4 separate regions of the Homo sapiens genome follow, and all the other regions are linked to region 1. Evidence: fine-mapped expression QTL. A gene starts in region 1. Each other region holds a variant in brackets. All regions are shown on one strand. Distances are from middle to middle. Region 1 holds the start of RIOX2 (ribosomal oxygenase 2). Region 2 overlaps CRYBG3 (crystallin beta-gamma domain containing 3). Region 3 overlaps CRYBG3 (crystallin beta-gamma domain containing 3). Region 4 overlaps GABRR3 (gamma-aminobutyric acid type A receptor subunit rho3).

The links. PIP is the estimated chance that this variant, and not a neighbour inherited with it, causes the effect.
Region 2: its variant is the best candidate, but not a certain one, in a credible set for the expression of RIOX2 in whole blood (INTERVAL, PIP 0.57).
Region 3: its variant is the best candidate, but not a certain one, in a credible set for the expression of RIOX2 in T cells (TOPMed, PIP 0.54).
Region 4: its variant is the best candidate, but not a certain one, in a credible set for the expression of RIOX2 in whole blood (INTERVAL, PIP 0.59).

Annotation. Positions count from the first base shown.
Region 1 is chr3:97,968,755-97,977,082 of GRCh38, reverse strand. It overlaps RIOX2 (ribosomal oxygenase 2), which reads left to right and starts at 4,652. Exons shown (of 10, transcript NM_153182.4): 1 at 4,652-4,702. It overlaps LOC124909398 (a long non-coding RNA gene), which reads right to left and starts at 4,430. Exons shown (of 2, transcript XR_007095976.1): 1 at 3,273-4,430; 2 at 1,961-2,217. RefSeq lists a silencer at 4,468-4,907 and an enhancer at 5,178-5,437.
Region 2 is chr3:97,902,557-97,910,884 of GRCh38, reverse strand. All of the region lies in intron 15 of CRYBG3 (crystallin beta-gamma domain containing 3), which reads right to left. Among named protein-coding and RNA genes, the nearest start is that of RIOX2, 66 kb to the left of the region's middle. RefSeq lists enhancers at 1-432, 433-1,023. The variant G/C (reference allele first, on the strand shown) is at 4,667.
Region 3 is chr3:97,846,922-97,855,249 of GRCh38, reverse strand. All of the region lies in intron 2 of CRYBG3 (crystallin beta-gamma domain containing 3), which reads right to left. The region is part of intron 3 of LOC105373994 (a long non-coding RNA gene); the gene reads left to right. Among named protein-coding and RNA genes, the nearest start is that of CRYBG3, 29 kb to the right of the region's middle. The variant G/A (reference allele first, on the strand shown) is at 3,225.
Region 4 is chr3:98,011,296-98,016,295 of GRCh38, reverse strand. It overlaps GABRR3 (gamma-aminobutyric acid type A receptor subunit rho3), which reads left to right. Exons shown (of 10, transcript NM_001105580.3): 5 at 3,729-3,952. Among named protein-coding and RNA genes, the nearest start is that of GABRR3, 22 kb to the left of the region's middle. The variant A/G (reference allele first, on the strand shown) is at 3,067.

The DNA.
Region 1 (8,328 bases):
TATTGGGGCTTCCTGACCCATATATACATTCTGTTAGTCTTGTAGGAAACATTTTCAATAGGAGCTTGTGTACCTTTTAACAAAGCAACCCAAAGAGTATGAGCAGAAAGCACCTCTGCAGGAGTACATATTTTTATAAGAATTGGGCAAGTCAATTTCAAGATTTATGATAACATGTTAAGTAAGAAAACATCTCTGTAAGGGAAAGTCATTGGAAAATCCTGAGGCATATTTTCACCTGCAAGTGCTGGGTTGCTGGAGAAAGGAGGTCTGCAGAATCATTTAAGAAAAGTCATGCAGCCTAACACCAACTTTCCTATAGGCACAGGCTGTAAAAGAAATTGGACTCTAAGCAAGAAAAGAAAATAGGAATGCTTACCCAATTCAATTTTGTAAACAGAGTAACTACTCTGTGAAGAACTCTGTTGCAGTTCTCAGAATTAAAGAAGCACATTTCTTGCTCCCAAGGAGTTTAAATCATAGTTTTATAAATATGCAAAATATAATTCCAAACGGTGATGGTATGCTTGTTATCAAGTTAAGTACGTTGAGTTCTATGAGCTGTATCGTAACTACTATAGTCTTGAAAGACCTCGGCCTGGGTCATTGTTAAACAAATTTGACTTTTCTGAAGGTACTAAGACACCAAGATTATCCCATGGTGATATGACATCAATTTGAAGGTACTCTGCTTGATGAATTGTGTAAATTAAGTGAAGTATGCATGTATAAAAGGCCCAACTGCATTTAATTCATTCCATGGAATCATGTTCAAGATGTCATATGGGATTTAACAGTAATGCCTCTCACACTCAATAGCATTTTACAGTTTTAAAACTCTTTTGCTTACTCCACCTCACCTGAAACTCACAGCATCTTTCCGAGTTAGGTGAAATTAACCACTTTTGGAGAAACATAAACAGAGGTCCAAAGAATATTACTTGATAGGCAGTATGGGTGCTATGGTCTGAATGTTTGTCCCCACCCTGGATTCATATACTGAAACAGAATCACCAATGTGATTGGAAGGTGGGGCCTTTGGGAGTAGATTATGTCACGCGGGTAAAGCCTTATAAATGGGATTATAAAGAGGACCCACAGAATTGCCTTCCCACTTCTACCACGTGAGGATGCAGCTAGAAGGTGTCCTCTGTGAACCAGAGAACAAGCCTCCAAAACTGTGAGAAGTCCATTTTTGTTGCTTATAAGCCACCCAGTCTTAGATATTTTCTTATAGCAGCCCAAATGAAAAAAATGGACTATCAAATGATGTATTTTTGAGCAAGTTCCTTAACCTTGATGTGTCTGTTTCCTTATATTAAAAAGTTAGCCCAATATAGTGGTATAAATATTAAAGTCATATACTAGAAAGACATGGTTTAGATATTTTCTGGACCAAAGTGAATACAAACACATAGGGGGCAGTACTCACATAGTTTAAAGCAATGTGTGTTTCCTGGAATCGTATGACACAGTAGCATTATAAAATAAAGCTTTACAACAAAAATACAAATATTAATCATTTTATAAGTTCTTCAATGTTTATAGACTGAAAGGTAATTCCAATCAGACTGATTCTTCTTCTAATGCCCTTTGAAAATTGGAGCACAGACCCTTAAGCCTATGGAATTTGAGTGCCAATAGGGATATCACAGTACATCTGGTGCAATCTTACTTTATAAATGAGGAAAGTGAATGTTAGCAAAGAGAGTTTTCCAAATTCATATACCTGGCCCCTCCAGAGTTAGATCTAATAACCATAAAAAGTACATTTACACACCACCATTTTTAGATTTTTTTGCACCCAGCATCATTGTGACTGGAGGTAGGAGTAGGACAGGGTTGCACTTTTGCAGCCTGATGCCCAGGCTGGACAGGTGCACAGCCACAATGAGGTGGCTAAAAACCAAAAGCTCTACAGGAAGAAGAGCCTAGGAGACCACAGAAGAGGAAGACAAACTTGGCTCTAAAAAGAGTCTTTTAATAAAGCAATCCAAACGGTGTGAACGTCAAGCACCTCTGCAGAAATGTAACTTATTTTACAAGGCTCATGGACAAGTCTGTTTCAGGGTTTATGGCCGAGACATGAAGGGAATTCTCTTCTTTCTCCTGTCTCCTTGGCATCTTGTTCCTCAGTTACAGAGGAGGAGCGCTAGTCTGTTGATTAGAAATCTGGAGGCTTCTAGACTTTTCCGGACAGATCTTGAGAGCTGCCATCTACAACATTGTTTTCATGAGAAAATTAATTACAGAAACAAAATAACTGACTTTTAAATGAACCTATGGTGGGGACTGGATAGCAGTCTGCATCTTGTCCTCTGGAAGAACTTTTCCAAAAAAAAAAAAAATACCAGAAACAATACATGTAGGAAGGCCATATATTCTAGAAGCCTCCCAGGCAAGGTTGCAGACCATTCTCCACTCCCATCCCATGCCACCCTTACTTCCTCACCTCCTCTTCCTCCTCTCAGGCAAGGTTGCAAGCCATTCTCCACTCCCATACCATCCCACCACACCCTTACTTCCTCCCCTACCTCCTTCCCTCCCTCCCCCTTCCTCCCTCCCTCCCCGCCCCTTCCTTCTTTCCTTCCTTTAGACGGAATTTCGCTCTTGTCACCCAAGCACAAACTAACTTTCCTTCTCTTTTTCTTTTTCTTTTCCGAAACAGAGTTTTGCTCTTGTTGCCCAAGCTGGAGTGCAGTGGTGCAATCTCAGCTCACTGCAACCCCGCCTCCCTGGTTCAACCAATTCTCCTGCCTCAGCCTCCTGAGTAGCTGGGATTACAGGCAGGCACCACCATGCTTGAGTAATTTTTTTGTATTTTTGTTAGAGACGGGGGTTTCACCATGTTGGCCAGGGTGGTCTTGAACTCCTGACCTCGGGTGATCCACCGGCGTCAGCCTCCCAAAGTCCTGGGATTATAGGCGTGAGCTACCGCACCTGGCCCCTTCTCCTTTTCTTCACAGGAATGATGGGCACTGTTTAGGTCTGAAAATGGAACTATCATGACTTTTTTGCTTGCTATGCTAAGAAATCGGAATTATAATGAAAAAAATCAGAGAGAACATACTGATATACTAATTTTGCATTAGAGGAACTCCTACACAAGATGTATGATTTCCCCCTGCAAAGCTGACTTCCATATGTACTTTTGTTCTGTTAGACATCCTGCGGCCATTTTATATGCTGAGAAAATGGTATTTTGTGTTGACATTATAACTTTTTTCTACAACCGTACTGCTTTTCCAAGTGGTGGACGTGTGAGAATTTACCTTTATCTGAATCCCGGGAACAGCAATATTATTCTATATTATCTTGAGTAGATGTCTTGCAGTCAAAATAAAGAGCGAAGTACATTACCAATATCATATCAACTAGAGATTTTTGCTGTTGACTATTCTTTTTTACCCTGTAAGGGCTAAATTTGATGTTACCCTCGAGTTTTTCCAACTGGAACCTGCCAGGAAACTTACTAGTTATACGAGTATTAGTAAAACGTGAAAAAGACCAACAGTTGACTGACTGGTTTGGCTCTAATCTTGTTTCTGCATCTTCCTAGCTGTGTGATCTTGTGCAAGTTAGTTAACCTCTCCTGACTCAGTTTCCTCAACTGTAAAATGGAGGTAATTGCAAGGTTGTAGTGAGGATGAAGTGAGGAGTATTTGAAACACCTAGCGTGGTGCCTTATAGCCAGGAAGAACTCAATTCAAGACTTGCTATTATTGTTAGTTTTAGACAAATACTAGACAAGGGTGTACTTTGTTCCCATTTGTTCATGTGCCACTTGATCCTTAGAAGCAGCCACTGGTCTCAGTCACCTTGACGGAACGAAATGTCGACTTCCTCTGGGTCCTCTGGCTGTCTACAGAGCAAAGAAAGGCACAGGCCCGCCACTGATTTCCCTGCTCCCTCATTTGTGCCTCCTGACTGGAACCAAATGTTCCAAAGCAGGGAGTGTTAGGCTGAAAGGACTCAGATAACTGCATTTCTTCTGTTTCTATAGCCATAGTCGCAACGAATTTCCAGTATCTTTTAAAACTAGGATTGACTCTCTCTCCCGGAGCGAGATGATATAAATGACACTCGGCTTGTACAAATCAGCATTGTGTAGCCACACAGCCCATAAGAAAGCCATGGGAGAACCCGGACCACCAACTCCCTAAACTTGCACCGCTGGTATTCCTCTTCAGGCCTGCTTCTCTATTCATAAAAGGAACGGAGTTGCACCAAAACGCTCTCTCAAATCCTCTCCTGCCGCCCCAAGTTAAAAGAAAAAAAAGGAGAGCCGGGTGGGTGGCTCACACCTATAATCCAGCACTTTGGGAGGCCGAGGCAGGAGGATCGCTTGAGCCCGGGAGGTAAAGGTTGCAGTGAGCCAAGATCGCTACCACTGCACTCCAGCCTGGGCGAGAGTGAGACCTTGTCTCACATACCATAAAAAAAAAAAAAAAAAAAAAAAAAAAAAAAAAAAGAGGAAAAAAAAGGCCATTTATTTCCTTCCATATGGACTAAAGAAACGCCCGGGCGTGAACGCGGAACACCGCCGGGTAGCCAGGCCTCCGGGCTGCCACCACTTGCGGGCCGGCGTGGCGGGGCGGGGCGGGGGCTGGAGCACGGCCCGGAGCGTGCCCACGCTGCCCCGCCTCCAGCCGCTGCGCCGCAACGCAGTGGGCTCGCGGCCGCGAGCAACAGGCCGTGCCGGGTGAGTGGGGCGCTCTCGTGGGCATCCCAGCGCCGGGGCAGGCCGGGTAGTGCCCGATCCCGCGGGGCGCGCGCTGCTGCTTTAGGCACCCGGGCTCGGGTGCGGGTCTGGGAGACCTGTCGGTCGGCGAGAAGCCTCGGTGGCCGGCGCTGTGGTTGCGGGACCTGGGACGCGCTCCCAGGCGTCCCACCTCCCCGGAGACTGGGGCAGGGTGGGTGGGGCCCGGATCTAGGGGTAGGGTCGCGGAAGCCTTGGTTACAGAGAGTCGCACACGTGGCCTGCTAATGGTCGCGACACCGGTGACGAGCGCACGGAAAGTTTGGAGGCTTAGCAAGGAGGGTGGTGCCGGCCTCCGCCCGGTGGTGGCAGAACTGCCTGTGCGAGCACGGCTTCCACGTGGGCTGCGCCGCCGGGCGTCATGTCGGGCCTAAGAGACACGCTCTACAGCTGTGAAATCTGAAGTTCAGGTGTGTGGGGAGAAGGGCAGCTGCATTACATCATATGCTTCCAATTCATTTACCAGCAAATAATTCCGCAACGATTGGCCGACAGCTGGGTTGTCCAACAGGTTACTGAGACCAGGTTATTCACTGTTTTCAGGAAGGATAGACTGGGAGGAAGAGGATCTGATTTCGCCACTCATTAGCTGTAAATCTGGTGCCTCGGGTTTCATGTCACTGGGCTCATCTTTGAGCAGAGGAACCTGATTTACTCAGCTTCTTCTGCTGGTACTGGTTTTTGCCTCCTGGACATCAAGCTTTGTAACCTCATGGTCACGAAAATACATTGAGGTATAGTCCGTTTCCTCTCTAAAATCAGACTAAAAAGATAACTGCTGATCACTCCTTTAGGTCAATAGGAGAACCAGTTTTCCCTCTGGATTGATTAACATATCTCTGAGCCAAAAAGAAATGTTTTAGATCAGTCTGGGCAACCTTGTTACAAGCAATATATAATTTCTGACAGCCGTGTGTTTAACTGAGCTGCGTTTGACTGTTGTCCTCCATTAGTGGACCTAAAATTCATCTAGAGAGCGTATTACGTTAATGCAGATTATGGGCCTCAGCCATCAGAAGTGGCAATCCAGTGGGCTTGATGAGGGCCCAGAAATTTGCATGCTAACAACCTTGCTGGTAACTCTGAACTACATTCTGTAAAACTGCCCAGGGGATGTAGAAATTCATACTTCCCTCCCCGATTTAGTAATAACTACTGATGTCTAAAGTGCCTTTTAGCTTTTACGATACTCTTGAATCCTGAAGTGACAGCTGCAATCAGAAAAATAATCCCCTCTGCACAGGCCATCTGTTTTTTCCGTAACTGTTTTGTGTAAGGCCTTTGTGGTTTGTCTCCAAAATTGTATACAGACAAAAGATGAAAATGTGAAAAATTCAGCAGACATTTCTTGAGGACCTCCTATGTACCACACCGTGCTTGTTTCCGGGGATATACAAATCCTTTCCTTCAAGAGCTTCCTCACGTCTTCATGTCCTCAAATATTATAGAAAAGGAGGTTAGGGTACCTTTAAAATATAGTGACTGTCTGTCTGTTGCCTATAGTATGGTTGTCAACATTGATTTTCTTATAGGGTTTATCTGTGGGGTAGTCACCAAAGTATGAACTGTAAATCTTTTAGTCTTTTTACATTTAATGCTTATAGTCAACTCAAATGGAAAACAATTGCTCTTCAAAAACTTTTCTGTGATTTTACAGAAATATTTACTCCTATTGGGGTGGTCTCTAAGGCTTATGGGCAAGGTTGTGTTGGCTGTACTATTCTAGACAAAGCATTGTCTTCTTTAATTACTATAGTATTGGATTCTAAGATATGTGTTTTACTTCTTGCTGTTTCCGAAATTATGATATGTACCTTAAGACTTTTGTATGTTTAATGTGGTAGGATGCTTCATCTATTCTCCCCTCTGCTCTAGAAAGCTGTTAAGAGGAATGGTTGTCTTACAGTATGAGTAGTGTGAGAATCAGAGAAATAATGTATTTGCCCAGAAACCTCTAAGCTTAGGCTCCAATTAACTGAGCCTCAAATCATTTCAACATGAACACAGAGAAACAAATGATGTAACTTTTGGCAGTATGGGTAGTGAAATTTATATTCTAAGGAAAGCATTTGTTATACAGTATTGGGGTTTGTTAGTGATTGTAGATGGGAAAGATTCTTTTAAGTGATTTTATTTTGGCTTAAGTGTTTTGCATTCTTTGATTAGCCACACTTTCTGGTGAATGTGCTTATACTGTATTCATATATTATGCTTAAAGAAAAGCTTTTCGTTTGCATCTTCCTCCTGCTCTCTCCCCTTAAATGAATTTTAAACTGACCAATTGTGAGAGATAAGAGATGTGTGGCTGAATATAAAATGACTCTATAGGGTGCCTTTAGTAATACAAACCTAATAAACCAATCTAAGTTTTTAAAAATTAAACGTGAGCAATGTGCTGTGGTCCCCAAGGCCATCTTTAGTTCAGCAATTTGCTAGGAGGACTCGGCTGATTTATTACAGGGAAAAGATATCAAGCACAGTCAGCAAAGGGAAGAGGCACATGGGTGAAGTTCTGGGGATACCAAGTGCAAGGCTCCAAGGGTCTTCGAGCGGTCACACTGGCTGTGCTCAGTTGCTCCAGCAACTAGTTGTGTCAACACTTGTGAAATGTTGCCAACCTGCGAAGCTTGTTAGAGACTCAGTGCCCAGGGCTTTTACTGGGGGCTTTTCACTTAGGCCACCCCTGCCTGGCACATACCAACGTTTCCAGACTCCCAGAGGAAAGCAGGTGTTGGTATAAACTGTAATGATTGTACATTTTAGGCATGGTGAGCCACTCCTATCAGTTAATGGTGGTGGAAACTCTCCCAAAATCTTAAGTTCTCAGACATCGGCCACAAGCTGCACTTTCAAAGGATAGCAGTCAGGCCTGCTATGGAACGTCTTCTGCATAAGCAGTACCCCTTCCCGAATCCATTTTTCTATCTCTTTGTATTTCTCCATCACTTGAGAGTTCCATGTACTAGCAATGCTGTGCCTTCCTGAAGCCTTAATTCTTTCCTGGAGAATTCAAGCTGGTCTGTTTCACTTAAAGGAAACATTTTCAGAAAATGTGTCTTACTGACCACATATCCTAAACACTAAAGTTTATTTTTTTTTTCTAAGCTTCAAGCTTTACCCCTCTCCTGTAGTATCAGTTTGTGTTAGTCTTCCACCATGTCCTGTGTTTCCTTATCAAAAGCACCTGGTCTTTTGAAGGAATGGAGCTGTTTAGAGGGTTTTATATTTTGACATTTCCTTTCTTAATTTGTTCAGTTTACATCTGGGTTTCAATCTAAAGTTTCTTTTATAAGTTGCAACACGTCACACAGTATGCAACACATCGTTCCAGGATGCTTACTTCCCAGGCCAGAACATTAATTCCACTTAGTCTACAGTGTAGCTGAAATACTGCTTAGTTATAATGACAAAAGAACAGAAAACAGTATTCTTGCAATTCTGATAACTCACCAAAGTAGGAAACTATACCATTTATAAATAACAAGTCTTTCAGAAATTTTGGTTTTTATAAGTACAGTGGTTCTTAACCTTGTCAGGAGATAGGGACTTCCTTAAGAATCTGTTGAAAG
Region 2 (8,328 bases), 66 kb after region 1:
TTTAACTTAAAGATGTATAAAATGTGAGGCTAAAAAGCAAATCACTTTTAACCTCCAAAAAATGCAGAGACATTTCTCCTGCATAGAAATATCTTTAAAAAAATAAAAGAAGGGGGAGGAGCCAAGATGGCCGAATAGGAACAGCTCCGGTCTACAGCTCCCAGCGTGAGTGACGCAGAAGACGGTGATTTCTGCATTTCCATCTGAGGTACCGGGTTCACCTCACTAGGGAGTGCCAGACAGTGGGCCCAGGTCATGGGTGCGTGCACCGTGCGCGAACCGAAGCAGGGAGAGGCATTGCCTCACTTGGGAAGCGCAAGGGGTCAGGGAGTTCCCTTTCTGAGTCAAAGAAAGGGGTGACGGACAGCACCTGGAAAATCGGTTCACTCCCACCCTAATACTGCACTTTTCCGGCGGGCTTAAAAAACGGTACACCACGAGATTATATCCTGCACCTGGCTCGGAGGGTCCTACGCCCACAGAGTCTCGCTGATTGCTAGCACAGCAGTCTGAGAACAAACTGCAAGGCGGCAGCCAGGCTGGGGGAGGGGTGCCCGCCATTGCCCAGGCTTGATTAGGTAAACAAAGCAGCCAGGAAGCTCGAACTGGGTGGAGCCCACCACAGCTCAAGGAGGCCTGCCTGCCTCTGTAGGCTCCACCTCTGGGGGCAGGGCACAGACAAACAAAAAGACAGCAGTAACCTCTGCAGACTTAAATGTCCCTGTCTGACAGCTTTGAAGAGAGCAGTGGTTCTCTCAGCACGCAGCTGGAGATCTGAGAACGGGCAGACTGCCTCCTCAAGTGGGTCCCTGACCCCTGACCCCTGAGCAGCCTAACTGGGAGGCACCCCCAGGCAGGGGCACACTGACACCTCACACGGCAGGGTATTCCAACAGACCTGCAGCTGAGGGTCCTGTCTGTTAGAAGGAAAACTAACAAACAGAAAGGACATCCACACCAAAAACCCATCTGTACATCACCATCATCAAAGACCAAAAGTAGATAAAACCACAAAGATGGGGAAAAAACAGAACAGAAAAACTGGAAACTCTAAAAAGCAGAGCGCCTCTCCTCCTCCAAAGGAACGCAGTTCCTCACCAGCAACGGAACAAAGCTGGATGGAGAATGACTTTGACGAGCTGAGAGAAGAAGGCTTCAGACGATCAAATTACTCTGAGCTACGGGAGGACATTCAAACTGAAGGCAAAGAAGTTGAAAACTTTGAAAAAAATTTAGAAGAATGTATAACTAGAATAACCAATACAGAGAAGTGCTTAAAGGAGCTGATGGAGCTGAAAACCAAGGCTCGAGAACTACGTGAAGAATGCAGAAGCCTCAGGAGCCAATGCAATCAACTGGAAGAAAGGGTATCAGCGATGGAAGATGAAATGAATGAAATGAAGCGAGAAGGGAAGTTTAGAGAAAAAAGAATAAAAAGAAATGAGCAAAGCCTCCAAGAAATATGGGACTATGTGAAAAGACCAAATCTATGTCTGATTGGTGTACCTGAAAGTGATGGGGAGAATGGAACCAAGTTGGAAAACACTCTGCAGGATATTATCCAGGAGAACTTCCCCAATCTAGCAAGGCAGGCCAACGTTCAGATTCAGGAAATACAGAGAACGCCACAAAGATACTCCTTGAGAAGAGCAACTCCAAGACACATAATTGTCAGATTCACCAAAGTTGAAATGAAGGAAAAAATGTTAAGGGCAGCCAGAGAGAAAGGTCGGGTTACCCTCAAAGGGAAGCCCATCAGACTAACAGAGGATCTCTCGGCAGAAACCCTACAAGCCAGAGGGGAGTGGGGGCCAATATTCAACATTCTTAAAGAAAAGAATTTTCAACCCAGAATTTCATATCCAGCCAAACTAAGCTTCATAAGTGAAGGAGAAATAAAATACTTTACAGACAAGCATATGCTGAGAGATTTTGTCACCACCAGGCCTGCCCTAAAAGAGCTCCTGAAGGAAGCGCTAAACATGGAAAGGAACAACCAGTACCAGCCGCTGCAAAATCATGCCAAAATGTAACGACCATCCAGACTAGGAAGAAACTGCATCAACTAATGAGCAAAATAACCAGCTAACATCATAATGACAGGATCAAGTTCACACATAACAATATTAACTTTAAATATAAATGGACTAAATGCTCCAATTAAAAGACACAGACTGGCAAATTGGATAAAGAGTCAAGACCCATCAGTGTGCTGTATTCAGGAAACCCATCTCATGTGCAGAGACACACATAGGCTCAAAATAAAAGGATGGAGGAAGATCTATGAAGCAAATGGAAAACAAAAAAAGGCAGGGGTTGCAATCCTAGTCTCTGATAAAACAGACTTTAAACCAACAAAGATCAAAAAAGACAAAGAAGGCCAATACATAATGGTAAGGGGATCAATTCAACAAGAAGAGCTAACTGTCCTAAATATATATGCACCCAATACAGGAGCACCAAGATTCATAAAGCAAGTCCTGAGTGACCTAAAAAGAGACTTAGACTCCCACATATTAATAATGGGAGACTTTAACACCCCACTGTCAACATTAGACAGATCAACGAGACTGAAAGTCAACAAGGATACCCAGGAATTGAACTCAGCTCTGCACCAAGCGGACCTAATAGACATCTACAGAACTCTCCACCCCAAATCAACAGAATATACATTTTTTTCAGCACCACAACACACCTATTCCAAAATTGACCACATACTTGGAAGTAAAGCTCTCCTCAGCAAATGTAAAAGAATAGAAATAATAACAAACTATCTCTCAGACCACAGTGCAATCAAACTAGACCTCAGGATTAGGAATCTCACTCAAAACCTCTCAACTACATGGAAACTGAACAACCTGCTCCTGAATGACTACTGGGTACATAACAAAATGAAGGCAGAAATAAAGATGTTCTTTGAAACCAACGGGAACAAAGACACAACATACCAGAATCTCTGGGACGCATTCAAAGCAGTGTGTAGAGGGAAATTTATAGCACTAAATGCCCACAAGAGAAAGCAGGAAAGATCCAAAATTGACACCCTAACATCACAATTAAAAGAACTAGAAAAGCAAGAGCAAACACATTCAAAAGCTAGCAGAAGGCAAGAAATAACTAAAATCACAGCAGAACTGAAGGAAATAGAGACACAAAACACCCTTCAAAAAATTAATGAATCCAGGAGCTGGTTTTTTGAAAGGATCAACAAAATTGATAGACCGCTAGCAAGACTAATAAAGAAAAAAAGAGAGAAGAATCAAATAGACGCAATAAAAAATGATAAAGGGGATATCACCACCGATCCCACAGAAATACAAACTACCATCAGAGAATACTACAAACACCTCTACGCAAATAAACTAGAAAATCTAGAAGAAATGGATAAATTCCTTGACACATACACTCTCCCAAGACTAAACCAGGAAGAAGTTGAATCTCTGAATAGACCAATAACAGGATCTGAAATTGTGGCAATAATCAATAGATTACCAACCAAAAAGAGTCCAGGACCAGATGGATTCACAGCCGAATTCTACCAGAGGTACAAGGAGGAACTGGTACCAATCCTTTTGAAACTATTCCAATCAATAGAAAAAGAGGGAATCCTCCCTAACTCATTTTATGAGGGCAGCATCATTCTGATACCAAAGCCAGGCAGAGACACAATAAAAAAAGAGAATTTTAGACCAATATCCTTGATGAACATTGATGCAAAAATCCTCAATAAAATACTGGCAAACCGAATCCAGCAGCACATCAAAAAGATTATCCACCATGATCAAGTGGGCTTCATCCCTGGGATGCAAGGCTGTTTCAATATATGCAAATCAATAAATGTAATCCAGCATATAAACAGAGCCAAAGACAAAAACCACATGATTATCTCAATAGATGCAGAAAAAGCCTTTGACAAAATTCAACAACCCTTCATGCTAAAAACTCTCAATAAATTAGGTATTGATGGGACGTATTTCAAAATAATAAGAGCTATCTATGACAAACCCACAGCCAATATCATACTGAATGGGCAAAAACTGGAAGCATTCCCTTTGAAAACTGGCACATGACAGGGATGCCCTCTCTCACCACTCCTATTCAACACAGTGTTGGAAGTTCTGGCCAGGGCAATTAGGCAGGAGAAGGAAATAAAGGGTATTCAGTTAGGAAAAGAGGAAGTCAAATTGTCCCTGTTTGCAGATGACATGATTGTATATCTAGAAAACCCCATTGTCTCAGCCCAAAATCTCCTTAAGCTGATAAGCAACTTCAGCAAAGTCTCAGGATACAAAATCAATGTACAAAAATCACAAGCATTCTTATACACCAACAACAGACAAACAGAGAACCAAATCATGAGTGAACTCCCATTCACAATTGCTTCAAAGAGAATAAAATACCTAGGAATCCAACTTACAAGGGATGTGAAGGACCTCTTCAAGGAGAACTACAAACCACTGCTCAAGGAAATAAAAGAGGATACAAACAAATGGAAGAACATTCCATGCTCATGGGTAGGAAGAATCAATATCGTGAAAATGGCCATACTGCCCAAGGTAATTTACAGATTCAATGCCATCCCCATCAAGCTACCAATGCCTTTCTTCACAGAATTGGAAAAAACTACTTTAAAGTTCATATGGAACCAAAAAAGAGCCCGCATTGC[G/C]AAGTCAATCCTAAGCCAAAAGAACAAAGCTGGAGGCATCACACTACCTGACTTCAAACGATACTACAAGGCTACAGTAACCAAAACAGTATGGTACTGGTACCAAAACAGAGATATAGATCAATGGAACAGAACAGAGCCCTCAGAAATAACGCCGCATATCTACAACTATCTGATCTTTGACAAACCTGAGAAAAACAAGCAATGGGGAAAGGATTCCCTATTTAATAAATGGTGCTGGGAAAACTGGCTAGCCATATGCAGAAAGCTGAAACTGGATCCCTTCCTTATACCTTATACAAAAATCAATTCAAGATGGATTAAAGACTTAAACGTTAGACCTAAAACCATAAAAACCCTAGAAGAAAACCTAGGCAATACCATTCAGGACATAGGCATGGGCAAGGACTTCATGTCTAAAACACCAAAAGCAATGGCAATAAAAGCCAAAATTGACAAATGGGATCTAATTAAACTAAAGAGCTTCTGCACAGCAAAAGAAACTACCATCAGAGTGAACAGGCAACCTACAAAATGGGAGAAAATTTTCACAACCTACTCATCTGACAAAGGGCTAATATCCAGAATCTACAATGAACTCAAACAAATTTACAAGAAAAAAGCAAACAACCCCATCAAAAAGTGGGCAAAGGACTTGAACAGACACTTCTCAAAAGAAGACATTTATGCAGCCAAAACACACATGAAAAAATGCTCATCATCACTGGCCATCAGAGAAATGCAAATCAAAACCACAATGAGATACCATCTCACACCAGTTAGAATGGCAATCATTAAAAAGTCAGGAAACAACAGGTGCTGGAGAGGATGTGAAGAAATAGGAACACTTTTACACTGTTGGTGGGACTGTAAACTAGTTCAACCATTGTGGAAGTCAGTGTGGCGATTCCTCAGGGATCTAGAACTGGAAATATCATTTGACCCAGCCATCCCATTACTGGGTATATACCCAAAGGACTATAAATCATGCTGCTATAAAGACACATGCACACGTATATTTATTGCGGCATTATTCACAATAGCAAAGACTTGGAACCAACCCAAATGTCCAACAATGATAGACTGGATTAAGAAAATGTGTCACATATATACCACGGAATACTATGCAGCCATAAAAAATGATGAGTTCATGTCCTTTGTAGGGACATGGATGAAATTGGAAATCATCATTCTCAGTAAACTATACTATCGCAAGAACAAAAAACCAAACACCGCATATTCTCACTCATAGGTGGGAACTGAACAATGAGATCACATGGACACAGGAAGGGGAATATCACACTCTGGGGACTGTCATGGGGTGGGGGGAGGGTGGAGGGATAGCATTGGGAGATATACCTAATGCTAGATGACGAGTTAGTGGGTGCAGTGCACCAGCATGGCACATGTATACATATGTAACTAACCTGCACAAGGTGCACATGTACCCTAAAACTTAAAGTATAATAATAATAAAAAAAAGATTATAAAAAAAAGACTCAGAAACTTAAAAAAAAATAAAAATAAAAAAATAAAAAATAAAAAAAATAAAAATAAAAGAAAAGCCGCATGAGAAGAGAGACAGGTTGTCTTGTTCACTAACTACATTCCCAGTTTGTTTATTAGTTGTATACTGCTGAGCTGAAGATTTATACTTCAACATTTTCACAATGAAGCCATGAAACATCAAATCCTGGACTACTGATACTGCCAGTGAAGCATATTTCAGATGGTATATACAGTAGCCACCTCCAGTTTTTTGTCTCAGTCTTCATACCCGGAAAAATCAATTAAAATTCATATACACACGCAGAAATAATGTTATAAAGTATCTCTTGATTTGATGGGTTAAAATAATCTTTGTCCAAACTTTAAAAACTGGGTTAAATGCTTATCTGAGTTGACTAGATGAGATATGGTATATGATTCACCCAGAATTAGACCAATTCTACAAAAATATGCCTCACTTTGATCACCTTATCAATCCTCAAAATAGAACAATTCTCATAATAATGTTCTGAGGATTGTCCATAGAGAAACCAACTCTGAGCTTGCTGATTATAATAATTAACTTGTGGTTTCTACTGTTGGTGAAATTAAGGACAGAGCCTTGGAGAAATTCAGTCCTTGGAAAAACTAGCTGGATAAATGACCATGTTGGCTACCTTTACAGAACAATCGATAACAAATATACAAAACAACTCAGGTTGCTTAAAACCGAGGCAAATTGACAAATAAGAGATGAGTGTTTTCCAGACTACACCCATCCTTCTGTGCCATGTTGGTACGGCTCAATCCCTAACAGCTCCCCAACTGGAAATGGAAGCGAAGGAAAAAAAGTATTCCTCTGGTTTGCTTTTCACATGTATTATTGTATTTCTTTCTTAGAACTACCAGTATTGAGCAGAAATTATCTCCACTATATTATGAAGATTTTACAGAAATTCTTTTTGCTACATAATTTTCACTTATATACTAACAATATGTGGTAATATATATCTTTAATATGACAAACTAAAAATGCAATGAACTACTGACAAAACACAGCTGTGCTCACTTATTCTACAATATCAGCATTATTTTTAATGTAATTTTAGTTACTCCAATACTAAAATAGTTTCTATGAGAAACTTTCTTCCCTGTCTAAATAAGACTTTCTCTAGCCCTTTGAGCCTCCCTCATAGAAATATGTTGATTATTAAGGAAAAGTCTTATTTCCATTCTTCTATTACATCACATCTTTCTCATATTGTAGTGTTATATATTTCTCATATTGGTTATATATTCTACAATGATTTCATTTCCCTTATTAACCATAAAGGCTTTCTTTACTGAAATAATTCTTCCTAAGTATTTCTGTGATTTGGCTCCTATAAAAATGATCTGGTTAAAGTGCCACAAAGAAGTGTTTTCTCTTTACTGCTTGTGAATCTTACTGTATTTGCCTAAAGCTGTGATTTTCCTATCCCCCATACATGAAAACAGTAGCAACAATTATTACAGATCCTGTGATCACTTTAAAATTCAGTGAGGCTAAATTATCCAATATAAGAAAACGCCTAGTTGCTTTTCTTGGTGAGAATCATGCATAAAATGGAACAGGGGCTCAATGTTTAAATAAATCCAAACATTTAATTATATCTGGAAATGGACTTTAAAAAGATTCTAGAAACAAAAGGTACTTGGCTGAGTCAAAGGGGAGAACTGGTTAGAATTTCTAGAGAATGATGCCTAACTACAACCTCCTCTGAAAACTAAATTCACTGTTATAAGATTTAATCTAGTGCTAGATTTCAGATATTCAGGACTTGCTGTAAGAGAGATGATGACGACATGCAGATAATACATATTCTGTTTGGTTTTTGTTTTGTTTGGGGGAAAAATTAAAAAAAGTCACTTGCTAATGGTGAAGAATTCTATAGCGATCCTGTATATCTTGAGTTGCTAATTAGACATAGCGACCAACCTTCAGTCTTCAGGAAAAAAAAATCTTCTCAATAAAAGGTGGTGTTCTCTGCATGTTCTCACTCATAAATGGGAGTTGAACATTGAGAACATATGGGCACAGAGAAGGGAACAACACACACCAGGATTTGCTGGGGAGTGAGGGGCGAGGGGAAGGAACTTAGAGGACTGGTCAATAGGTCCAGCAAACCACCATG
Region 3 (8,328 bases), 120 kb after region 1:
ATAAAATACTAGCAAAATAAATCCAACAGCACATAAAAAAGATTATATACCATAATTAAGTTGAATTTATCCCAATGATGCAAAGACAATTCAACATATACAACACAATAAACATCACATCAACAGAATGAAGGATAAAAACCTTTTGATCATCTGAAACAGAAAAACGTTTAATAAAATTTAATATCCCTTCTTGATAAAAACTCTCAACAAATAGGTATATAAGGAATGTACCTCAATGAAATAAAGGCCATATATGACAAATCCACAGGTAACATCATAGTAAAAGTAGAAAAGTTAAAACTTTTCTGCTAAGATCTGGAACAAGATAAGGATGCCACTCTTACTACTCTTATCCAATATAGTACTGGAAGTCCTAGCCAGAGCAATCAAACAAGAGAAAGAAATTTAGGGTCCAAATTCGTATAGAGGAAGTCAAACTGTCACTGTTGGCTGATGATATGATCGTGTTTCTAGAGAACCCTGAAGACTCATCCAAAAAGCTTCTACATCTGATACATGAATTCAGTAAAATTCCAGGATAAAAAAAAATCAATGTATACAAATCAGGAGCACTGCTATACCCCAACAACGACCAAGCTGAGAAACAAATCAAGAACTCAATCCATTTTACAACAGCTGCAAAAAAAAAAAAAAATACTTAGGAGTATACCTAACAAAGGAGGTGAAAGATCTCTACAAAGAAAACTACAAAACACTGCTGAAAGAAATCATCAATGACACAAACAAATGGAAACACATCCCATGCTCATGGATGGGTAGAATTAATATTGTGAAAACGACCATACTGCCAAAAGTAATCTACAGATTCAATGCAATTCCTATCAAAATACCACCATCATTCTTCATAGAACTAGAAAAAACAATCCTAAAATTCATATGGAACAAAAAAGAGCCCACATAGCCAAAGCATAGCCAAAGCAAGACTAAGCAAAAAACAAACAAACAACAACAAAAAAACAAATCTGGAGGCATCACTTTACTTGACTTCAAACTATACTACAAGGCTATAGTTAACAAAACAGCATGGTACTGGTATAAGATAGGCATGTTGACCAAAGGAACAGAATAGAGAACCCAGAAATAAAGCCAAATACAGCCAACTGATCTTCAACAAAGCATACAAAAATAAAGTGGGGGAAAGGACAGCCTATTCAACAAATTGTGCTGGGATAACTGGCAAGCCACATGTCAAAGAATGAAACTGGATCCTCATCTCTCACCTTATACAAAAATCAACTCAAGATGGATCAAATACTTAAATCTAAGATCTGAGACCATAATAATTCTAGTAGATAAAATCCATAAGACTCTTCCAGACATTGACTTAGGCAGAGAGTTCATCACTAAGAACCCAAAAGCAAATCTAACAAAAACGTGAAAAAATGCTCAACATCACTAATTATCAGGGAAATGCAAATCAAAACCACAATTGTGATACCACGATTGTGATACCACAATATTTAAGTATGGCAAAAAATGACCATAATTAAAAAATCAAAAAATTATAGATGTTGACACGGATTCAGTGAAAGGAGAACACTTTTACACTGCTGGTGGGACTGTAAACTAGTACAATCATTATGGAAAATAGTACGGAGATTTCTTAAACAACTAAAAGTAGATCTACCATTTTATCCAGCAATCCCACAACTGGGTATCTACCCAGAGGAAAAGAAGTCATTATATGAAAAAGTCACCTGCACTCACATGTTTATAGCAGCACAATTCGCAATTGCAAAAATATGGAACCAGCCTAAATGCCCATCAACCGAGTGGATAAAGAAAACGTGTGTGTGTGTGTGTGTGTGTGTGTGTGTGTATTGTATGTGTGTGTGTGTCTGTGTGTACATATACTGTGGAATACTACTCAGCCATAAAAAGGAATGAAATAATGGCATTTGCAGCAATTTGGATGGAGTTGGAGACCATTATTCTAAGAGAAGTAACTCAGGAATGGAAAACCAAACATCATATGTTCTCACTTATGTGAAAGCTAAGCTAAAAGGATGCAAAGGCATAAGAATGATAAAAATGGACTCTGGGGACTTTGGGGGGAGGGTGGGAGGGGAATGAGGGATAAAAGACTACACATTGGGTACAGTGTACACTGCTTGGGTGATGGGTATACCAAAATCTCAGAAATCACCACTAAAGTACTTATCCATATAACCAAACACCACCTGTGCTACTAAACTATTAAAATAATTAGAAGAAATAAAAATGGGCAATTAATCTGAACAGACATTTATCAAAGATGACACACAAATAGTCAACAAGTACATGAAAAATGCTCAACATTGCTAATTATCCAGGAAATGCACTTCAAAACCACAATGCGATATCACACCCCAGTTAGAATGGCTACTATCACAAAGACAAAAAGTAACAAATGCTGGTGAGTATGTAGAGAAAAGGGAACTGTTATACACTGTTGGTGCGAATATAAACTGGTACAATCATTATGGAAAACAGTATGGAGGTTGCTCCAAAAACCAAAAATAAACTACTATGGGATCCAGCAATCCCACTTCTAAATATACATCTAAAGAAAAGGAAATCAGTATGTCAAAGAGATATCTGCACACCCATGTTTATTGCAGCACTATTTACAACAGCTAAGTATGGAATTAATCTAAGTGTCAAAAGTATATCCAGAGACAGCCTTCTCCTCTGTCCTCATTACTAACCTCGTTACAAAGGAGTTACCAACCCTCCCTGTTTCTTTTCCTTTACTCCCAATCACTTCCTAAGTCCAGACAATTGGGCTACCTCCCCAATAATCCTAACCATGACCTTTCAGGGACACCATTCTAACGACTAATCACTCCAATGGACTGTTCTTCTGTCCTGATCTTATATGATGTGTCTGCAGAATGTGAGACTGAATCTCTTCCTGAAAACCATTCTTCCTTTAGATTCCATGGCATCACTCTGAGGTTTCCCTTCTTACTCTCTGAATACTCTTCTCCATCTCTTTCACATTCACTTCTTGTAGCCATCCCTCATATAACATGCTTCTCCAATTTCCAGCCTATATCAGCTTTTCCTTCATGCTCTTATGAAATCTCTTGCCCACAGACTCAAATATTCAGATGATGATCCTCAGATTAGCTCAGACTCCTAAACTACCAACCAGACATCTATCTCCATACCTGGATGCTTCACTGGACCTCAAACTCAAAACATTCCAAACTGAACTT[G/A]GCCATGCTATGTCTCCTTTCTTCCTTCTTCTATAAAGTTTAAAATTCCCACTTGTTAAAGTCAGAGAAAACATCAGGACACCATCACCATAACTGCGCCCCCTAGAATAGTGTTATCGGTGGCCTAACCGGATTTGCTGCTTCCACATCTGTTATCCCCCACTATGTTCTCCAGACAAAAACCACAGCAATCTTCTAGAAGCCAAGTATGATCATTCTTAAATCCCTCCAATGGCTGAGCATTGCCATCAGGATAAAATCCAAGCCCCCTGGCATTGCCTTCAAGGTCTTGGTGGATATAGCCCCCATGGCTTTCTCCAATTTCATCTCTTACCACTCACAATGCTTGCAATGCCTACTGTCTTCACATGCATTACTATTCACTATCTCCTCCTTCCTCTCTCCCTCCCTACCTTTCTTTCTCTCACACTACTGTGTATCTTTGCAGAATGCTATTTCCACTGCTGGGACTTATCCCTTGCTCTCTTTGCCTGGAAAATTCCTTCTACAATTCCAGTTTTTCAGGACGGAAATTACATTTACGTTCTTCCAGTGTATATCCCTAATATCATATGTCTGCCTTGACACCACAGGGTGTAGGTAAACAATAATCTTACATACTTTCATCATGACTAGGATTATTACTGAAGTTATTAACGGTAACTAAAATTTGGCATTCATAAACTAAAACCCACTCCTTATTAAATAATTCTAGTTAATGTTCTACTAAGACATCTGGCTGCCGCGTATTACTTGGAAATTTTGCCAAAAGTTGAAATTCCACCACCAATACTTGAAATTCACAATTTTGAGAAAAATGCTTTATTAGTTTATTATTGCTGCTATCTTGAATTACAGCTTAAATGATGCTAAAATTTTTTTTTTTTTTTTTTTGGAGACAGTCTCGCTCTGTCACCCAGGCTGGAGTGCAGTGGTGCAATCTCGGCTCACCAAAACCTCCACCTCCCAGATTCAAGCCATTCTTCTGCCTCAGCCTCCCAAGTAAATGGGATTACAGGCGCACGCCCATCATGCCCAACTAATTTTTTTATTTTTAATAGAGACAGGGTTTCACCATGTTGGCCAGGCTGGTCTCCATTTCCTGATCTCAAGTGATTGACCCGCCTCAGCCTCCCAAAGTGCTGGGATTACAGGCTGATGCTAAAATCTTAAATCAAAATCAGTACCTTTATAAAGGATTTCATCGTGGTGGGTTGTCTGATTAACTCCTCAGTGAGTACTGATATATATTCATGTCATTATTTTTCAATAAATGGATTTTACAACTAAATTTGTAAAGATGAACTGTTTATACTCCTATTGTTAAAGTAATTTTGCTTCAAAGATAACATTAGATCGTTATCACAGAGTTATTCTTTTCATTAGAAAATGACAACAGGCAAGGTAGGTAGGCAACTACCTTACCTTAATGCAGCTGGTTATAGTTTAAAACAATAAGCTATTTGCAACTTTTATATCATCACACATCAGTGTTATGATCAGTTCTAGGATGTAATTAATAACTTATTACCAAGATTATTTTAAAAGCTAAAATTTTACCTTCTAAAAATGTTCTAGTATAGAATTAAAGTTATATCTGGCGTGTTACTTTCACTGTTTTCAAATCCATATAATTTTTGATAAAGATATGTAGTTATATGTACTATTTAAAGTAAGTGCCCTTAACCACAGGTGACCCAAAACAGTTACCTCTCATATGTATCAGAGAAAAAATATGCGTGAAATTGCTGATCTAAATAAGAAAAGTATGAGTTATATAGTATCAATGGGTATGCGTATGAAGGAAGGGCCGTTGATGGGCCTTAGTTCAATGGGAAGGGAGATAAAACACTAGATTCATTCCCAGGTGTCAAGATTGGGTAGTGTGGTGGTACTTCCAGAAATAGCAGGAAGCTAAAATAAAATGAGTTCAACTTTGAGTATGTCAAACTTTATACTCAGAGACATCTGAGAGGAGAGGTCCGTGAAATAGCAGGCTTTATCACCCTGAAGCTCACGATATATGCTGGGCTAAAGGAACATATATGAGCTAGTCACTAGCCAAGATGCAGGCAGAAATCAAATCAACCAGGGCAGGTATACAAAGAGAGAAGAGAAAGGAACAAGAAAAGGAATGGCAGGAAAGCCATTCCCTCCTGTTATGATATAAGTATTTCAGCAAAAGCACTGGGCCAGAATAACAAATGCTTTTGATTCTCTGAGAGCTTTCTGGCGCTCACTCTCGTGTTCCAGAATCAGTATCTGACACCTGTAAAGGCAAATTTTCTCACAAAAATCTAGAGTACATACATGTTCCTTCATATTCAGTTTCCATTTTGATAAGATATTCCATCATACCGCAATGTAGGAACATTCCAGGTATACCATAGTTGAAGTGGCTGCAAATCAAACCAGATACCTTACAACACAATCAATTCAATAACTACAAGATGTCAAGTGCCCAGACTACCATCAGCCACAATGACAGGCTTAAGCCCTGACAGTCCATTTGGTCAACTGGACAGCACAGTAACACACAGCGCATTTTCCATTTCGGGCACTCCAGTAGCACTCACTTTTTTTTTTTAGAAGCAATCAAGAGGCAAGATTTTGACTTCCAGCTAAAGTTGAATATGGTATGCCTTCTTGTATGTACCTTCTTCTCAAACGTTATGCAGAATCAATATTTCAAATATGTGCCTTCTATACTATTCACCCAGAATAAATCACCACCATTTTCAAGCAAAGATTCACAGTATTTCTAAGTTTTAGCCAGACTTTATATGGCAAGAAGGCAATCATTTTACCAAGTGCCTACTCTGTATCAGGCATTGTACAGTACTTAACATGTTATCTTAGTTAATTCTAAAACACCTCTATGAAATAAGGACCCGCCCTACTACAGATCAATAAACCAGGATTCAGAGAGGTTAAATAAATTTCCCAAAGTTACCAAGCCACCACCTGGAAGATCTAGGATTTAAGTCCAGGCATATCTGGTTACAAAGACTGTGTTCTTTCCATCATTACACATGTAATTTCAAAACTGTTCCAAGGAGGTGCCAGGAATGGCAGGGGCAGAGAACAGTGGCTGACTGTGAAGCTCCAGGCAAATCATTCCCACCATCAACAGGGAAAACTGTGCTGTAATCTATTTATACACAGGGTTGCAGGTACAATTATTGTTGGGGTGGGAGCACTGTTATGTTTGAAAAAGAGACGTATAAAAATCTGTACGTTAAACTGACATGATACTGCTGCAACTATTTGCATTGCTGAGAAAAAAAGACAGCAGACACCAGGAGCAATGGTGTATGCCTGTCTGTAGTCCCAGCTACTCAGGAGACTGAGGTGAGCGAATTGCTTGAGCCCAGGAGTTTGAGGCCAGACAGACATAGCAAGACCTGTCTGTTAGAAAACAAACAGGCTGGGTGCAGTGGCTCATGCCTGCAATCCCAGCACTTTGGGAGGCTGAGGCAGGCGGATCACGAGGACAGAAGATCGAGACCATCCTGGCTAACACGGTGAAACCTTGTCTCTACTAAAAATACAAAAAATTAGCCGAGAGTGGTGGCACGTGCCTGTAGTCCCAGCTACTCGGGAGGGTGAGGCAGGAGAATCGCTTGAACCCAGGAGGTGAAGGTTTCAGTGAGCCGAGATCGCGCCACTGCACTCACTCCAGCCTGGGTGACAGAGCGAGACTCCATCTCAAAAAAACAACAACAAACAAACAAAGATAGCAAGCATACACTAAAGCCATACATATTTTAAAAATTGGTTCAGTAATTAATTTCCCTCTAACCAAGACAACATTTAACACATTTAAATTTGACTACCATTTTACTCTCACTGAGAAAGAGTTGAAAACCTAATAAGGAAAGAGGAGCTACATAAAATCAAAATATGAACAGATGCAAATATTTAAAATATTCATCTTACTACATAATTCTGTATTCTGAATACGGGCATTAATGTAAAGAACAATTAGTGATCATTCTTCCTCAGTGAAATAGTCTTGGGCTACAATTCTTCCATTTCTACATGTCAATTATTAAACAGTGGCAACAAAAAATGCGGTTCTTTGTAATAAGTGATTTACTTATTAGAAATAAGGGTAATGTGTCATAAATATCTGATATTGATATGCAGTAAGTTAATACTTATTAATTTCATTTTATTTACAAGAATATCACAGGCATACACCAAATACTTCCTCTTAAAAGATGCTAAATCCTTCAACAAAGTTGCATGATTAGTCATGAGCAGCATTTCTAAAATGGGACCAGTGGTAGATTTCATATAAGGCAGATGCCAAGCTATGGAGAATATGCATAATAATCATTGATGTATTGAGGCCTGGGTTGGAGAATCTATAACCTGCGGTCCAGATATAATAATCTTATTTAGCTCATGGTTCATTTCTGGAAAAAGACTTACTGCCACTGTTATTTTTATGTTTTAATAGGATTTCTTTTTGATAAATGAAGTTTATGAATATAGCTTAAAAATTCAGTACACGAATAGGAAGAATCATGGTACATAACTGCCTCTGAATTCTCTTGCCTCTGTTCATTATCAGTGGGAGTTGTGTCAAGTGACTTAATTTGAGATTTGCTTTTTTCAACTACACACAAAGGGATACAAATTCTGTTTAACACTGTGGATAGAACATACACATTGATTTTTTCCTTTTGAACAAAATACTCTAAAATGACAGCAAAAGAGTATTTTTGTTGTTGTTGTTTTTAGTTATAAGTACAAAGACAGGAAGAGAACAGATATAACTGGTGATACAGTTTGGATGTTTGTACCCTCACACTGAAATATAATCCCTGATGTTGGAGGTGGGGCCTGGTGGGAGGTGTCTGGGTCATGGGGGCAGAACCCTCATGGATGGCTTTGTGGTGTCCTTGCAATAGTGAGTGAGTTCTCGTGAGATCTGGTTGTTTAGAAGTGTGTGGCAGCTTTCCCCTCTCTCTTGCTCCTGCTCTTGCTATGTGACATGTCTGCTCCTTCTTTGCCTTCTGCTATGATTTCCACCAAAGCCGAGCAGATGTTGGTGCCATGCTTTATGTAAAGCCTGCAGAACTGTAAGCCAATGAAA
Region 4 (5,000 bases), 41 kb before region 1:
AATTGAGAACTCATTCATTACTAAGAAGATGGCTCCAAGCTATTCCTGAAGGATCTGCCGTCAAGACCTAAATACCTCCTGATATGGTTTGGCTCTGTGTTCCCCACCCAAATCTCATCTTGACATGTTGAGGGAGGGACCTTGTGGGAGGTGATTTGATCATGGGGGCAGTTTCCCCCATGCTGTTCTTGTGATAGTGAAAGAGTTCTCATGAGACCTGATTATTTGAAAGTGGCAGTTTCCCCTGCACATGCTCTCTCTCCTGCTGCCCTGTGAAGAAGGTGCTTTCTTCCCCTTTGCCTTCTGCCGTGGTTGTAAGTTTCGTGAGGCCTCCCCAGCCATGCAGAACTGTGAGTCAATTAAACCTCTTTTCTTTATAAATTACACAGTCTCAGGTAGTTCTCTATAGCAGTGTGAAAATGGACTAATACACCTCCCTTCAAGCCCCACCTCCAACACTGGGTATCAAATTCCAACACAACATTTGGAGGGAACAAACATCCAAACTCTATCACGTGTTCTTACCCAATGGCTATGTGTCTTTATATTTAAATTGCTTTTTCCATCTCATTTCTTTGTCCTCAATTGCTATCTTTTCCGTCATCCTCTTTAGATGGATCTCTTTCCTTTTCTTTCAATACTACACCACTTTCAGGAGTTAATGATAAAGGCCCTAACTGGTACCTACTAGTAAGATGCAGCTTATGAATATGTTTTGGTTTGGTTTCAATTTTGTATTTGGTTTGAATTTTAGTTTTTTATCTCCATTCTACCCAAAGTAGTAAACAATTTAATGTTTGGGCCAAGAGCAGTGGCTCATGCCTATAATCCCAGCACTTCGGGAGGCCAAGGTGGCCAGATCATTTGAGGTCAGGAGTTCGAGACCAGCCTGGCCAACATGAGGAAACCCTGTTTCTACTGAAAATACAAAAAAAATTAGCTGGGTGTGGTGGCACATCCCTGTAGTCCCAGCTACTCAGTAGGTTGAGGCAGGAAAATAACTTGAACCTGGGAGGTGGAGGTTATACTGAACCAAGATCACACCACTGCAATTAATCCTGGGTGGCAGAGTGAGACTCTTTTTAATAAAACCAAGGAGTAGCTCTTCCATGATTGGGAAAAGTTAAGTTATTTTCTTTTCAAACTCCATTTTCCATCTGAAAAGATTTAGTTTGTTGTTTATCCAATCCACTCATTTGATGGCCATTTTTACGTACATGAATCCTTGAATTTCATTCCATTTTCTGGAATATTTTACATGTGTGTTCTTATAAAACTTTCAAAAGTTGTTTTTATATATGCTTTAGAATAAGTATTGTTGATACATAAACTGTAGCTTATATAGTGATTTTCAGAGTGTTAAAATTTAAAATTTAGATTCTGTGTATTATTTTTGTAATAATGCAAATACTGCAATTAAAGATAAAAAGAGAGAGACAAAGTGAACAAACAGGGATCTGTTGAGGGAGGGACCTAGAAAATATCAATCACTAAAATCAAATAATCTTTTCATCTATATCCTTAATTCATATTTTTATTTATAGTGATTCCTCCAAATCACTAAAAGTTCAGAACACATAAAAATTCTAGAAAGTTCTAAACAAAATCTTCTATGACCCATTACACCTTGTTTCAGTCTGTAAACTCTTCAGCTAATGGTCTGCCTCATCCTTATCATTATCTAATTCAATATTTATTTCAGCTCAATGTAAGTCTTAAAGATTCATTTGCCATTCTCCTGCAAAAGGGAATAGCACTAATAGGACTCGCTACTCAAAAAAGATTGGTTTAGAAGATTTTGCCCCTTTCTTACCCAAAGGCAGCTCTTTTACTGATACTTCCCCAAGCCTGTTGTGCTCTGAGAACAAGCTTTTATTTCCCCTTTCCTGGAATATTATCCAAGTCATTTCTGAATGACATATTATCCAAGTCATTTCTGAATGATACTTCCCCAAGCCTGTTGTGCTCTGAGAACAAGCTTTTATTTCCCCTCTCCTGGCGTATTATTCAAGTCATTTCTGAATGACCCAGTTTGCATCTAAAGTCCTTATTGTTTCTAACCAGCAGCACCCAGAACTGGACATCATCTTTACCTCCTGAATAAGGTTAGCTGTGCTAGTCCGTATCAGATAAAACTGGACTGGGTTCACATGCCCAGTTTGAAAATGCTTTCTGATTGTCAGTGATTCACCCTTCCCCCTAGTGTTGGTTTTTTTGTTGGTTTGTTTATTTGTTTTTGCTTCTCATTTATCATCTTTCTACTCTCTCATCCGCCCTAACTTCACTTTTGATCTATTTAAGATTTGTCTCACCCTCCTCCCAGAATGCTGTTTGGCCTGCTCCTGATAGTGCCAGCGTGTGGTGACTTGCTATATCACAGACATGCACCAACGTCTGCTATTTGACTGCATAAACTCAGTGTTTGCCCAGTGAACTTCAGATCACACTGAGCATCTAATTCTAAATATATGCTTATTAAGGCTCTCTGTGCAGTAACCCACACAATTCCTTGTATTATGTTAATGAAGCAACCATTCTGTTTATTTGCCCTCACCCTAATTCAAAATTACACATGGCTAATGTTCCTAGATTAATCCAGAGCCATAAATCAGTATAGCTCTATTCTGAACCTAGGACAAACTAGCTCATAATTAATTGGTGACTCATTCAGAGTTTACTGAAATGTATCCTTTGTTTGTATAATAAATGCCAAAGTTCTATGATATGCAATGGTTCAAGAAAAATTTGATTAGTGTTGGAAAAAAAGATAGTAAGAAGTAAGCAATTGTGAAATAGTAAGAAGTAAGCAATTGCAAAATAGTAGGAAGTAAGAAATTGTAATTGTCCAACAGCCAATAATTTGGATGAAGCTGGGGGAGTTTCTATTCAAACAACCAAATATTTGGAACATCTGAGAGCCAAACAAAACTCAAATTATTAACTAAATAAACTGTTTTTTCTAATATAATGCTAGTACAGTTTTTTCCTCTCATCAATACATTCTTACAATGTAAGAATAAACAGTAACAATTCAAATCCCTGAGCCATACTGAATCAGAATCTCTG[A/G]GAACTAGCTTCTGGGAAATGTGCCATTTCAACAAACTTCAAAAGTCAGTCTTTGCACACTAAACTTTGAGAACTACCATTTCACAATATGCTTTCTATCTCTCAAGCTGAGGATGATTCTGTCTCTGTCCCAGGACTTCTGACAACTTGCTTTACACGAATAGCTCTAATAAACACTGTATCCATGTTTTTATGGGACTGTAGTTTATTCGATTTGGGAAAACTTCTTTAACAAAAATAACATGAGTATCAATACAAAATCAGTTTTAAAAGTGATTTAGAATAAAAAAGGAAGTCACAATAAAATAATGGACAATAAAATAGTAAAGTTTCAGGTTCCTTTCTTCTGAAATCTCTTTAGGTTATTTACCAGAATGCTTACACAGAAATGCTTCCCATTTATAACCTGGTTCCCCTTCCCCAACTTGAATATTCTATTATAACTCCCAGAAATTCTCAACGTTCACTAGGCTCCATGTGAAGGAGAAGCTCAAAGCATAACCTCCTTAGCTTCATCCTAGATCTACTTGAAACTACAATATTAACCATTCACTTAAAAGTCATTAACACCATAGGAATGAGTCCTGGGACTAACAGTGTTGAGTGGTCATCCTGAACCATATTCCTACTGGTTTTTTTGGTCTCTTTTTCTCTCTGTCTAGGACTTTACAATGACTTTTTATCTCAGGCATTACTGGAAAGACGAGAGGCTCTCCTTTCCTAGCACAGCAAACAAAAGCATGACATTTGATCATAGATTGACCAGAAAGATCTGGGTGCCTGATATCTTTTTTGTCCACTCTAAAAGATCCTTCATCCATGATACAACTATGGAGAATATCATGCTGCGCGTACACCCTGATGGAAACGTCCTCCTAAGTCTCAGGTAAGGAAAGCTGCCTATCGCCTTTGGCTTCCCTGTACTGCAGCCATCTGCACCAAAGCTGATGATGCTTATTTCAGATGAAACTCACAATGTTGCTGTCTGTTTAATGCTGCTGGAGATTGGGACACAAGCATAAGATGTGATTTTCCCCTGGTTCTAACATCCAGATTTTAAAAAATGATTTTCTATTCTAACTCTACCCACTCTGGGTATATGTCGATTGGACAAATAGAATGAGCTGAATTATGGAAATCCTAAAATCTGGCACACAATATTATAAGTAAACAAGCCTGTTTTCCTCCTCACCAACTCCACCCCACCCTGGCACCCCACCAAGCAGTTTTGGAACCTTGGATTAGCTAAATAACTTTTCTTAGTTGTCTCCTTCATTTTTCATGGGAAGGCATGGCTATCATTCAAGCTAACACCAATTTGCTCTCTTTTTCTTTTCTTTTAATTTTAAAATGTGCATTCCAACACTTTGCTATAACAGTCCTCCCTTTTTAATGTTCCATATTTTCTTTTAGTCAAATGAGTTCTGTGCATATTGAGTGGCTTATCATGGATAATTCTAAAAATGTTTGGTAAACCCAAGCAACTCAGCTTTTTTTAATGTCCTACAAACCTTAGAAAAATTCTAAAGTAGGGTGAAGAAATGATACCCCAAAAGATATCCATGTCCTAATTCCTGGAACCTGTGAAGCTTATCATATATGACCAAAAAAGAAAAAAAAATCCTTGCAGACGTGATTAAGTTAAGGATCTTGAAATAGGGAAGAAATTATCTGGATTATCTGGTTGGGACTTAAATGCAATCAAAAGTATGCTTATAATAGAAAGGTAGAGGACAATTTCATGCATACAAAAGAAGAGTAGGCAATGTGGTCATAAGTCAAGGAATGTTGGCAGCCACCAGAAGCTATAGGACACATGGATTTTCCCCCTAGAGCTAAGAGTGAAGGGCCTTTATGACACTTTGATTTCAGCTCCATGATACTGATTTCAGAGTTCTGGCCTCCAAATCTGTGAGAGAATAAATTTCTGTTGT